Homo sapiens: one gene and its partner. The protein of the gene in region 1 purifies or fractionates together with the protein of each later gene. This does not show direct contact. Each region holds a gene or a part of one and is shown in the gene's direction. Other genes may lie near its edges. The genes, in order: SLC45A3 and EIF4B.

Region 1 (6,442 bases):
ATGTTATTTCCATCCTTCTCACGGAGCTTGGTTCCCCTTCCCCTTGCCCTTTACTTGTCCCAGCCATTGACTCATACTACTTCCCTTCTTGCAGGCATTGGTCCAGTGCTGGGCCTGGTCTGTGTCCCGCTCCTAGGCTCAGCCAGTGACCACTGGCGTGGACGCTATGGCCGCCGCCGGCCCTTCATCTGGGCACTGTCCTTGGGCATCCTGCTGAGCCTCTTTCTCATCCCAAGGGCCGGCTGGCTAGCAGGGCTGCTGTGCCCGGATCCCAGGCCCCTGGAGCTGGCACTGCTCATCCTGGGCGTGGGGCTGCTGGACTTCTGTGGCCAGGTGTGCTTCACTCCACTGGAGGCCCTGCTCTCTGACCTCTTCCGGGACCCGGACCACTGTCGCCAGGCCTACTCTGTCTATGCCTTCATGATCAGTCTTGGGGGCTGCCTGGGCTACCTCCTGCCTGCCATTGACTGGGACACCAGTGCCCTGGCCCCCTACCTGGGCACCCAGGAGGAGTGCCTCTTTGGCCTGCTCACCCTCATCTTCCTCACCTGCGTAGCAGCCACACTGCTGGTGGCTGAGGAGGCAGCGCTGGGCCCCACCGAGCCAGCAGAAGGGCTGTCGGCCCCCTCCTTGTCGCCCCACTGCTGTCCATGCCGGGCCCGCTTGGCTTTCCGGAACCTGGGCGCCCTGCTTCCCCGGCTGCACCAGCTGTGCTGCCGCATGCCCCGCACCCTGCGCCGGCTCTTCGTGGCTGAGCTGTGCAGCTGGATGGCACTCATGACCTTCACGCTGTTTTACACGGATTTCGTGGGCGAGGGGCTGTACCAGGGCGTGCCCAGAGCTGAGCCGGGCACCGAGGCCCGGAGACACTATGATGAAGGTAAGGCCTTGGCAGCCAGCAGAGGCTGGTGTGGGAGCCGCCCACCAGAGACGACACTCGGGGCTGTGTCTGGGCTGGTGCCTCTCCATCCTGGCCCCGACTTCTCTGTCAGGAAAGTGGGGATGGACCCCATCTGCATACACGGCTTCTCATGGGTGTGGAACATCTCTGCTTGCGGTTTCAGGAAGGCCTCTGGCTGCTCTAGGAGTCTGATCAGAGTCGTTGCCCCAGTTTGACAGAAGGAAAGGCGGAGCTTATTCAAAGTCTAGAGGGAGTGGAGGAGTTAAGGCTGGATTTCAGATCTGCCTGGTTCCAGCCGCAGTGTGCCCTCTGCTCCCCCAACGACTTTCCAAATAATCTCACCAGCGCCTTCCAGCTCAGGCGTCCTAGAAGCGTCTTGAAGCCTATGGCCAGCTGTCTTTGTGTTCCCTCTCACCCGCCTGTCCTCACAGCTGAGACTCCCAGGAAACCTTCAGACTACCTTCCTCTGCCTTCAGCAAGGGGCGTTGCCCACATTCTCTGAGGGTCAGTGGAAGAACCTAGACTCCCATTGCTAGAGGTAGAAAGGGGAAGGGTGCTGGGGAGCAGGGCTGGTCCACAGCAGGTCTCGTGCAGCAGGTACCTGTGGTTCCGCCTTCTCATCTCCCTGAGACTGCTCCGACCCTTCCCTCCCAGGCTCTGTCTGATGGCCCCTCTCCCTCTGCAGGCGTTCGGATGGGCAGCCTGGGGCTGTTCCTGCAGTGCGCCATCTCCCTGGTCTTCTCTCTGGTCATGGACCGGCTGGTGCAGCGATTCGGCACTCGAGCAGTCTATTTGGCCAGTGTGGCAGCTTTCCCTGTGGCTGCCGGTGCCACATGCCTGTCCCACAGTGTGGCCGTGGTGACAGCTTCAGCCGCCCTCACCGGGTTCACCTTCTCAGCCCTGCAGATCCTGCCCTACACACTGGCCTCCCTCTACCACCGGGAGAAGCAGGTACTCATTGGCCAGTGGGTGGAGTCAGGGTGGGAGGGGTGGTCTGGGTTTTTGGGAGGCCAACTAGCTCAGAACCTGGTATCTGGCAAGCAACTTTGGAGAATGCTTCTTTGAATCAGAGAAGAAGCTTATCCTAGCCCCAGGGCCAGAGGCTTGGGCTGCAGAACAGTGTAGATTAGATTCTGGGAATGACTTCCTGGGGTCAGGACTGTGTAGCACTTGAATGGATGATTGCAGGAAATGCAAAATACGATAGTGGGAATCCCGAAGGGTCAGGCCAGCAGGAGCCCTAGGCTTCTAGGCTGGTTGTTCTATGGAGAGGCAGGGCGCTGAATCAGATGACCCCTGGGCCATTCAGCCTCAGCAGACGGGAGTGGGAATGGTCCAGCCTTAGCAACACCTTTCTTCAGGGAGCAGCAACCTGACTTAGCCTGTATCCTACTCTGGTCTCTGAGATGGGGCAGGCTCCTTCCTACCCCCTTTCTTTCTGGCTTATTTTTCTTTTCTGTCTAATTCCCTTTTCTTTTCCTGCATCCCTCCTTTGCCTCCTTCCCTTTCTCCTTCCCCTTCCCCTTCCCCTGTGGCAGATATCTGAGCTTGACACCTGACCCACTCACTTGGGCACTGTGTAAGTTGTGGGGACCTCCTTCTTGGTTGGCCCTACACTAACCAGCCCCTCCAGGGGCCCCTTTCCTTGGGAAGCCACCTAACCCAGGTAGTGTGGTCATCCTTGTCCCCTCCACTGACCTCACTGAGCTACAAACCTGGGTGCTGGACTCTGCCTTGAGGGGCATGAAGTTGGGGTGTCCCAAGGGAGGAGGAGATGCAGGACTGCTCTCATAGAGCTCTCAGACTGTAGGGAAGACCTGCCCCTGCGTCTCGTAGCACTTGAGGAGAGGAGTAGGTAAGTTCGTAGCTGAGAGGCTGGTTAACTGAGTAGGTAGCTGCAGGGGTGAGAGGTATGGAGGGGAGGGGCTAAGGTTTTGGTTGGGGGAGCCTGGTCCCTGAGACCCCTGTTAGCCCACTGATAACCTTCTTCAGCCTTCACTCTTCTGCTTGCCTGGGCTGGGGGCAGGGGGCTGGCATCAGCGGCCAGGCCTGAGTATGTGCTGTCGTGCCAGGGAACGTTCTGGGGCTAGCCATCTTCTCCAGATGGAGGAGCATGTCTGTCCTCGGACCACTCCAGACTCCAACCTCAGCGGACATTCCTGGGGTGGCAGGCAGGGAGGAGAAGTCCTGGGAGGCCCCTTCCTAACAGCAGCTGATGGCAGACTTGGCACTGCACGCTGTCTGCCTGTTCCTTTGCCCACTTGTTGAGCTGCATGGTGAGCCGTGGGCTTCCCTGGTGTCAGGTTTGAGCTCTGCCATGGCTCCCACCTCGCAAATGCAGCCAACTCAACTCTTCTGGCATGGGGACAATGTTGGATAAGACCTGGCCTTGTCCTTAAATAGGAGGCTCTGGGCCATCAAGGGCAGGGGTTGGGGGGATGGTGGTCGACCAGTCACTCTGATCTAAGTCAGACAGCAGGAAGGAAGTGAGAAGCCTTCAACATTAGCACAGCTGGGGCTGGGGGAGGTGGGAAGAGGGACATTCCTCCTGCTTGGGGTCTACTGGATTCTCCCTGCCCCAAGGCTGGGGACAAGGGAGCTCATGGCAGGGCAGCTACCCTAGTGGCATCTGGGACCCCAGAGAGGCAGAGCTTCTCTGCACCGGGCAATGAGGATTTCCAGATGTCGGAGTGGAGGGCAGGCAGGAAGGAAGGTTAGGAGAGCCTGCGTGGGGTTTGGGCCATCAGGGGCCCTGCCTTGGCTTTTGTTCCTCTGTTCTGTGCATCTCTTACCACCGTCTTCATTCCCCCTGTGTCTTTTCCTTACCTTGGAGCTCTGTTCTCTCTGATCTGTGATATTGAGTTTGTCTGCCTCTTACCTGTTCTAAGAGGCTAGAGGAGACCTAGACTTCTGGGTTCACATTTGTCCCCGCCCTACCCCGTTACCCTTCTCCCACTCCTGAGGAAGGGTCCTGGTTAGACTTGGACCAAGTAGGGTCTCCATCTTCTCTCCTGCTCCTGATTCTCATGAAGTCCCATTGCCCCTGGGATGGAGGCAAGGGTCTGTTCTCACAGCTGGGGTGGTGCCAGTGCTGGGTACACACCTGTCCTCTTCCCCTTTTCTTCACCCCTCTGCCTTAGGTGTTCCTGCCCAAATACCGAGGGGACACTGGAGGTGCTAGCAGTGAGGACAGCCTGATGACCAGCTTCCTGCCAGGCCCTAAGCCTGGAGCTCCCTTCCCTAATGGACACGTGGGTGCTGGAGGCAGTGGCCTGCTCCCACCTCCACCCGCGCTCTGCGGGGCCTCTGCCTGTGATGTCTCCGTACGTGTGGTGGTGGGTGAGCCCACCGAGGCCAGGGTGGTTCCGGGCCGGGGCATCTGCCTGGACCTCGCCATCCTGGATAGTGCCTTCCTGCTGTCCCAGGTGGCCCCATCCCTGTTTATGGGCTCCATTGTCCAGCTCAGCCAGTCTGTCACTGCCTATATGGTGTCTGCCGCAGGCCTGGGTCTGGTCGCCATTTACTTTGCTACACAGGTAGTATTTGACAAGAGCGACTTGGCCAAATACTCAGCGTAGAAAACTTCCAGCACATTGGGGTGGAGGGCCTGCCTCACTGGGTCCCAGCTCCCCGCTCCTGTTAGCCCCATGGGGCTGCCGGGCTGGCCGCCAGTTTCTGTTGCTGCCAAAGTAATGTGGCTCTCTGCTGCCACCCTGTGCTGCTGAGGTGCGTAGCTGCACAGCTGGGGGCTGGGGCGTCCCTCTCCTCTCTCCCCAGTCTCTAGGGCTGCCTGACTGGAGGCCTTCCAAGGGGGTTTCAGTCTGGACTTATACAGGGAGGCCAGAAGGGCTCCATGCACTGGAATGCGGGGACTCTGCAGGTGGATTACCCAGGCTCAGGGTTAACAGCTAGCCTCCTAGTTGAGACACACCTAGAGAAGGGTTTTTGGGAGCTGAATAAACTCAGTCACCTGGTTTCCCATCTCTAAGCCCCTTAACCTGCAGCTTCGTTTAATGTAGCTCTTGCATGGGAGTTTCTAGGATGAAACACTCCTCCATGGGATTTGAACATATGAAAGTTATTTGTAGGGGAAGAGTCCTGAGGGGCAACACACAAGAACCAGGTCCCCTCAGCCCACAGCACTGTCTTTTTGCTGATCCACCCCCCTCTTACCTTTTATCAGGATGTGGCCTGTTGGTCCTTCTGTTGCCATCACAGAGACACAGGCATTTAAATATTTAACTTATTTATTTAACAAAGTAGAAGGGAATCCATTGCTAGCTTTTCTGTGTTGGTGTCTAATATTTGGGTAGGGTGGGGGATCCCCAACAATCAGGTCCCCTGAGATAGCTGGTCATTGGGCTGATCATTGCCAGAATCTTCTTCTCCTGGGGTCTGGCCCCCCAAAATGCCTAACCCAGGACCTTGGAAATTCTACTCATCCCAAATGATAATTCCAAATGCTGTTACCCAAGGTTAGGGTGTTGAAGGAAGGTAGAGGGTGGGGCTTCAGGTCTCAACGGCTTCCCTAACCACCCCTCTTCTCTTGGCCCAGCCTGGTTCCCCCCACTTCCACTCCCCTCTACTCTCTCTAGGACTGGGCTGATGAAGGCACTGCCCAAAATTTCCCCTACCCCCAACTTTCCCCTACCCCCAACTTTCCCCACCAGCTCCACAACCCTGTTTGGAGCTACTGCAGGACCAGAAGCACAAAGTGCGGTTTCCCAAGCCTTTGTCCATCTCAGCCCCCAGAGTATATCTGTGCTTGGGGAATCTCACACAGAAACTCAGGAGCACCCCCTGCCTGAGCTAAGGGAGGTCTTATCTCTCAGGGGGGGTTTAAGTGCCGTTTGCAATAATGTCGTCTTATTTATTTAGCGGGGTGAATATTTTATACTGTAAGTGAGCAATCAGAGTATAATGTTTATGGTGACAAAATTAAAGGCTTTCTTATATGTTTATTGGCATGTGTTTCTTTTAGGAGGGGGAAAGACCTGATCTTTCTACAACATTCTTAACTCTCAGTTCAGGGAGCCCTTTGGCTTTTGACAGCTTCACTTCCCAGTGGCCACCAGCAGGTGGAGGCATAGACCAGCACTCTTTGTGTCAATTGCCAATTGTGGGGGGTTGTGCTGCACCTTGGACTGGGGGGTTTCGGAGTTGGGGAGAGGGGGTCAGAAAGAGTCTGAAGTGTGGGGCAATGGTGGCATTTTCCTTCTAAAAGACCCCTGAGTAGGGATGGGCATGATGACTCACGCCTGTAATCCCAGCACTTTGGGAGGCTGAGGCAGGTGGATCACTTGAGGTCAGGAGTTCCGAGACCAGCCTGGCCAACATGATGAAACCCTGTCTCTACTAAAAATATAAAAAATTAGCCAGGTGTGGTGGTGCGTGCCTGTAATCCCAGCTACTCGGGAGGCTGAGGCAGGAGAATCGCTTGAATCCAGGAGGTGGAGGTTGCAGTGAGCCGAGATCGTGCCATTGCACTCCATCCTGGGTGACAAGAGTGAAACTCCATCTCAAAAAATGAAAAAAAAAAAA
Region 2 (5,543 bases), on another chromosome or scaffold:
ATCCATCTTTGGGAGCCAAAACTTGGATGTGGACCATTTTCCACACTGTTGAGATCCTGGTAGATGCGTGAGCATCTGCAGCCTGATAATTTGATATTTTCACTCTGGCTTCACAGATGCACGAAGGAGAGAGAGTGAGAAGTCTCTAGAAAATGAAACACTCAATAAGGAGGAAGATTGCCACTCTCCAACTTCTAAACCTCCCAAACCTGATCAGCCCCTAAAGGTAATGCCAGCCCCTCCACCAAAGGAGAATGCTTGGGTGAAGCGAAGTTCTAACCCTCCTGCTCGATCTCAGAGCTCAGACACAGAGCAGCAGTCCCCTACAAGGTGAGTCAGTTTGGAAACAGTAGTTGGTTAACTGCAGATTCTAAAATACTGTGATGTAATGATGGAAGATCTCCTACGGGATGCCAGCGTTGTATAGCACCTTATAAGTTATGCTGGCTTTAGTCTCTTAGTGTGCTGGAACTGGCTCATAAGACCTAGTTGTTCCATTTTCTGGAGTTCCACCACTTTGATAGCTTGAAATCAGCTATGATGGGAGTACTAATGCCGCACAAATCTGCAAATACTGTAAGTCAGAGGCTTCCCTTTTGCCACATATTGGCAGTATGGTAGGGGGTAACTTCCTTTCATTTCTCTTAAGTCTTCTCATTTGTAAGCAAAATAGCAACACTATTAGCCTGGCGTGGTGGCAGGTACCTGTAATCCCAGCTACTCGGGAGGCTGAGGCAGGAGAATTGCTTGAACCTGAGAGCGGAGGTTGCAGTGAGCCGAGATGTGCCATTGCACTCCAGCCTGGGCGACAGAGTTAAGACTCCAAAAGAAAAGAAAATAGCAATACTAATCCTGCATGATGTGATGATTAGAAAGCATATGGCACTTTAGTGTTCAAATTACTGCTTTCATTGTAATCTTTCCCATATTTTAATGTTCCATAACATTGAGTATGATTTTGTTTTCTATAAAGCTTACCCACTGCATTTGGAGGATGATTATGTTTCTTGGTTGTTTTCTCCCTGAAACAACTGATGAATGTGATTACCTGTTTTCCTTCTAGTGGTGGGGGAAAAGTAGCTCCAGCTCAACCATCTGAGGAAGGACCAGGAAGGAAAGGTGAGCTCATAGTATGGGAAATAGGTTTTTCACCTAGAAGCCTAAATAAAAAGGCCTCCAAAATTAGATTTTGAAGAGCAGTGTGTCTCGCACCTGATACCGTGTTAAGAGTTCTTGGGTTGGCCAGGCGCAGGGGCTCACACCTGTAATCCCAGCACTTTGGGAGGCCAAGGCGGGCAGATCACAGGGCAGGAGTTTGAGACCAGCCTTACCAACATGGTGAAACCCCGTCTCTATTAAAAATACAAAAAAAATTAGCCGGGTGTGGTGGCACATGCCTGTAATCCCAGCTACTCGGGAGACGCTGAGGCAGGAGAATTGCTTGAACCCGGGAGACGGAGGTTGCAGTAAGCCAAGATGGCCCCACTGCACTCCAGCCTGGGCGACAGAGCAAGACTCTGTCTCAAAAAAAAAAGAATTATTGGGTTATCTACCTTTTCTTGCCAGTAGAGGGAGGAGTGGCCTCTTTGGAGAAAGTATGAAACCCTGCCCTTTCCTGGTAGAACATTTCTTTGACGGGGAGAAAAAAATCGGAAGGAAATTAACCAAGGTCACTACAGAGCGTCATAATCTTTATTTCCAGCTTGCTTTTCATGATGGCATATCCCTACATGGAACTTTTTAGTGGATTTTGTTTGTTTTTTGTATTTTTGTGTGCTGTAGAGGATGTGGAAAGAAGGGCTTCAGGAAGGAAGTCTGGGTTGGGGTGAGGTTAGTTTCCCTCAGTACATGTGGGCACAATTTTCTTCAGCTTAAGGGAAATCTTAGGAGAGGGACATTGATACTTTTACTTGCCTTTAATTTGTTTACATTACTGCCCAAGCAGATGAAAATAAAGTAGATGGGATGAATGCCCCAAAAGGCCAAACTGGGAACTCTAGCCGTGGTCCAGGCGACGGAGGGAACAGAGACCACTGGAAGGAGTCAGATAGGTATGCTTGTTCTCTTTCTCATCTTTCCTCTGATCCACATGTTTGTGTAATTAAGAAATTAAGTTCTTGGTTCTCAGAGCACTGCCAGATCGCTCATTGTGAGCAAACTAAAGTCAGCCAACGTAGACAGTTAAGATTCTGAAAATCTAGAAGTAATACATCATCCAGACAACAAGGACTGTTGACTAGAGGTGCCTGTTCAGTGCCTTGAAACTGCATGCATACACATGTTTGTATTAGGCGAGTCCTTTCCTAAAGACATGGTTTTATGCTTACGTCTCTGCAGGAAAGATGGCAAAAAGGATCAAGACTCCAGATCTGCACCTGAGCCAAAGAAACCTGAGGAAAATCCAGCTTCCGTAAGTGTTGAAGGCTGCTCCCAATTTTTCATTCTAAGAAAAATTCTTAGAATTCTAAGTATTCTTACTAAGAATTAAAAATTCTTAGTATTCTAAACTTTTTGCCGTTGGACTTCTTTCCATTTGGAATACAAAGTGTTTGGAAATAAGACATTGGTCTTTACTGAAATAGCGAAAGAAGTTTAGCTTTTTCCTGGTTTCTGTCTTCCTTTGTTCTCATCCCTTCTGCAAGGTGTAGAGGTGGTATGAGACTATAGTAAGATCGCATGTGCCTCTGACCCTCTTCCCTAGCTCCTCTCCAATGGACAATGCTGATGAGCAAGCAAGTGGGTGTCATCTGACTGTCATCCCCCATTGCCAAAGGATCAGTATCCTGTGTCTTGGGTTTTGATGTGATAATTCAGGGCCTTCATTATCCTGTCACTCTCGTTGTGTTACAGAAGTTCAGTTCTGCAAGCAAGTATGCTGCTCTCTCTGTTGATGGTGAAGATGAAAATGAGGGAGAAGATTATGCCGAATAGACCTCTACATCCTGTGCTTTTCTCCTAGTTTCTCTCCACCCTGGAACATTCGAGAGCAAATCAAAACCTCTATCCAGACAAGACAAAATAAAACTCACCATCTCCTGAAGACCTTTCTTACCTTTTTTTAAAAACAAAAAATGAAATTATTTTGCATGCTGCTGCAGCCTTTAAAGTATTGAAGTAACTGGAGAATTGCCAATACAGCCAGAGAGAAAGGGACTACAGCTTTTTAGAGGAAAAGTTGTGGTGCGTTATGTCACCATGCAGTTGCCAGTGTGATTAGTGCCTAGGGGTCTCCATTTAGCAGAAATGGTAATGACAGTGATATAATGCCTGGAACCTGGTTGGGCAGTAGGGGAGGGAGGTAGAAGGAAAAGTGTGAGATTTCTACCTTTTAGTTTTTATCCTATTGTGGCATATATGAATTCTCAAACATTATCTGAATAAATTTTCCACTCTTGGAAAGGTAGATTTAGCCTCAAGTTGTTCTAGTCTCCAGGAGGCTGCCAGCCCCTCCTCTTATTTAATTCTGAGTTTTGGGGGCCAGCCTAGAGGGAATTCCTTTTTTTTTTTTAACCCCCCAGGGGGGTAGTTGGGAGTGAGACTATAGGCCATAAAGAATGGGACTGCATTGGACCAAAATAAATGGGAAAATCGTGGTTTGAAAAGAAGCTTTTGGGAAGTGATGAGTCATTTTGCACCAGGTAATAGGGGAAAATTGTGTGACCTCCAGCAAACACATGAATGGTTATTTCCTGGAGCCGGAAGCACTTGGGGGTCGTGGTAATTCCCAGTGTTTTCTGTGTCCTAGTTTTACCCTTTCTAAACACTGTCCTTTTTGAAAGTTTTGAATATATCCACATTCTATTGAAACCTTGAAACTAAAAATTTAGACTCTTATCATCATCTTAAGTTCTTCATGCTACTCTTAACCTCCCAAAAAGCAGTATCTAAGTCACATACATGATGTCTTGGGCATTTTCTCAGCCATGGAGAACTCTGAAAGGAAGAATCGCTGCTTTTCTCAAGCAAATCGGTTTCTTGATGTCTTTTGGTTCTCCTTGCCTGCTCCTGATGCTTGGACCCCTTTTATTGATCAGAGTGCTCTAGAATAATGGATGGTCTTGGATGATGGATAAATAGGGACAGGGACAGTTAAATTGGGAGCCTTTCTTACAACCTTGATGGGATTTTTCCCCCCAAGTTTCCTTCTCCACTGAAATGCCACACTAATGCTTGTTGGATTCATGAGGTGGCCAGACCAATGTGTTGTTTTGTTGTTGTTTTTTTAAGCTTCCCTTGAGAGAATAAATGGTAATGGAGAGAACTATTTAACAAGGTCCTGGTTTCTCTTGCAACACAGTAGCTAAACTTGCCTGCTTTTATATGCATTTTTGTAGGGATCAGCTTGGTAGACAGTATTAGCGGAGAAACACCTTGATCTTGGTTTGCAAGCCCTTCTCCCATCAGTCCTAGATTAGGCCCTGTTCAGCCATGCAGGGGTGTTGGTTTATGCGTGCTGCAGCAGTGGGCATAATGAATATAATTTACCCAGTGGACAAAGGTGTGTACCAAGTGAATTTAAATAATTGGTGTGGATTGGCCAGTAGCTAAGAAGTGGGCTTTTAAAGAGTATTGAAGATTGAAAGGGTTTTTCTTTCTTTTTTAAAAAAGAAAAACAAACTATTGATTGTAGATAATGAAAAGCTAGGGTTTGCCCTCTTCATGTCTACTCTCCTTCCAAATAGTTATATCCAAAACTGTTTTTCCCTCTCCCCTACCTTGTCCCCCCTATTAAAATAGAAACAGGGATTGATTAATGTCCCGCTCCTGAATACATGTAAAATTTGTACAAAAATATCTTCTATGAAAATGATTTGTAATCTGTAGACTTATTACCTGGGAGATGTCTTGATGTAAAATCCCATCCTTTGGGTTGTGGGTTTTTTGTTTTCTCCAAATAAATCTGATCTTTAAAGTTCATTGTAATGCTGAAGTTCTTTGACAAATACTCTGCACTCCCAGTGGTTTTTACTGTAGTCATTGACCACCTGCTCCTCCTCCTCCTACCATCTCTGAAGTTTTCATTCAGTATTGGATACCATATTGTCCAAGATTAGAGGGTGGGGTTACAAGGGAATCTATTTCAGTGTTTATTGAGGCCCAATAATAGAGTTTGCATCCTAGCTCCCCTCTGGCTTTTTTTTTTTTTTTTTTTTTTTTTTTTGCCTGGTGTTAAATTTTTTAATCACCTGGATGTGCCTGCAGTCTATTTCCTGTACTGTTTATTTTAATCAAGATGTGGGAACTCTAAGAATGAATCCTTGTGTCCTTGGGGCAGTTCCCTCATAATCTCCCTCCCTCACTTCAGCAATCTGGAGAGATGCTGCTCCCTTGAGTTACACCGCACTGGTGGACCAGAGATACTGGTGACAGGCTGGTCGAGGTTACCAGAACAGAGGCTCACAGACTCAGTGGGAATTTTCCAAACAGCTAGGGACAGACTGGTCATTGTTGCAAGGCGGGAAAGGGGTTAGGACAGTGGCAGAGAATCCTTAAGGTCACAAGGAGGTGGAGCATAGAAAGGAGCCCGGGAAACCTCAGTCAAC

Evidence for each region.
Region 2: the proteins of SLC45A3 (region 1) and EIF4B purify together in Homo sapiens (affinity purification with mass spectrometry; 2 studies listed by BioGRID and IntAct, with this or other methods). This does not show direct contact.

Annotation. Positions count from the first base shown.
Region 1 is NC_000001.11:205,657,271-205,663,712, reverse strand, and holds the end of SLC45A3 (solute carrier family 45 member 3), read left to right. Parts: intron 1-94; coding exon 95-880; intron 881-1,586; coding exon 1,587-1,852; intron 1,853-4,041; coding exon 4,042-4,479; 3' UTR 4,480-5,862; downstream 5,863-6,442. UniProt on the Homo sapiens protein: Proton-associated sucrose transporter. May be able to transport also glucose and fructose.
Region 2 is NC_000012.12:53,037,293-53,042,835, forward strand, and holds the end of EIF4B (eukaryotic translation initiation factor 4B), read left to right. Parts: intron 1-116; coding exon 117-330; intron 331-1,063; coding exon 1,064-1,119; intron 1,120-1,945; coding exon 1,946-2,051; intron 2,052-2,337; coding exon 2,338-2,410; intron 2,411-2,850; coding exon 2,851-2,931; 3' UTR 2,932-4,923; downstream 4,924-5,543. UniProt on the Homo sapiens protein: Required for the binding of mRNA to ribosomes. Functions in close association with EIF4-F and EIF4-A. Binds near the 5'-terminal cap of mRNA in presence of EIF-4F and ATP.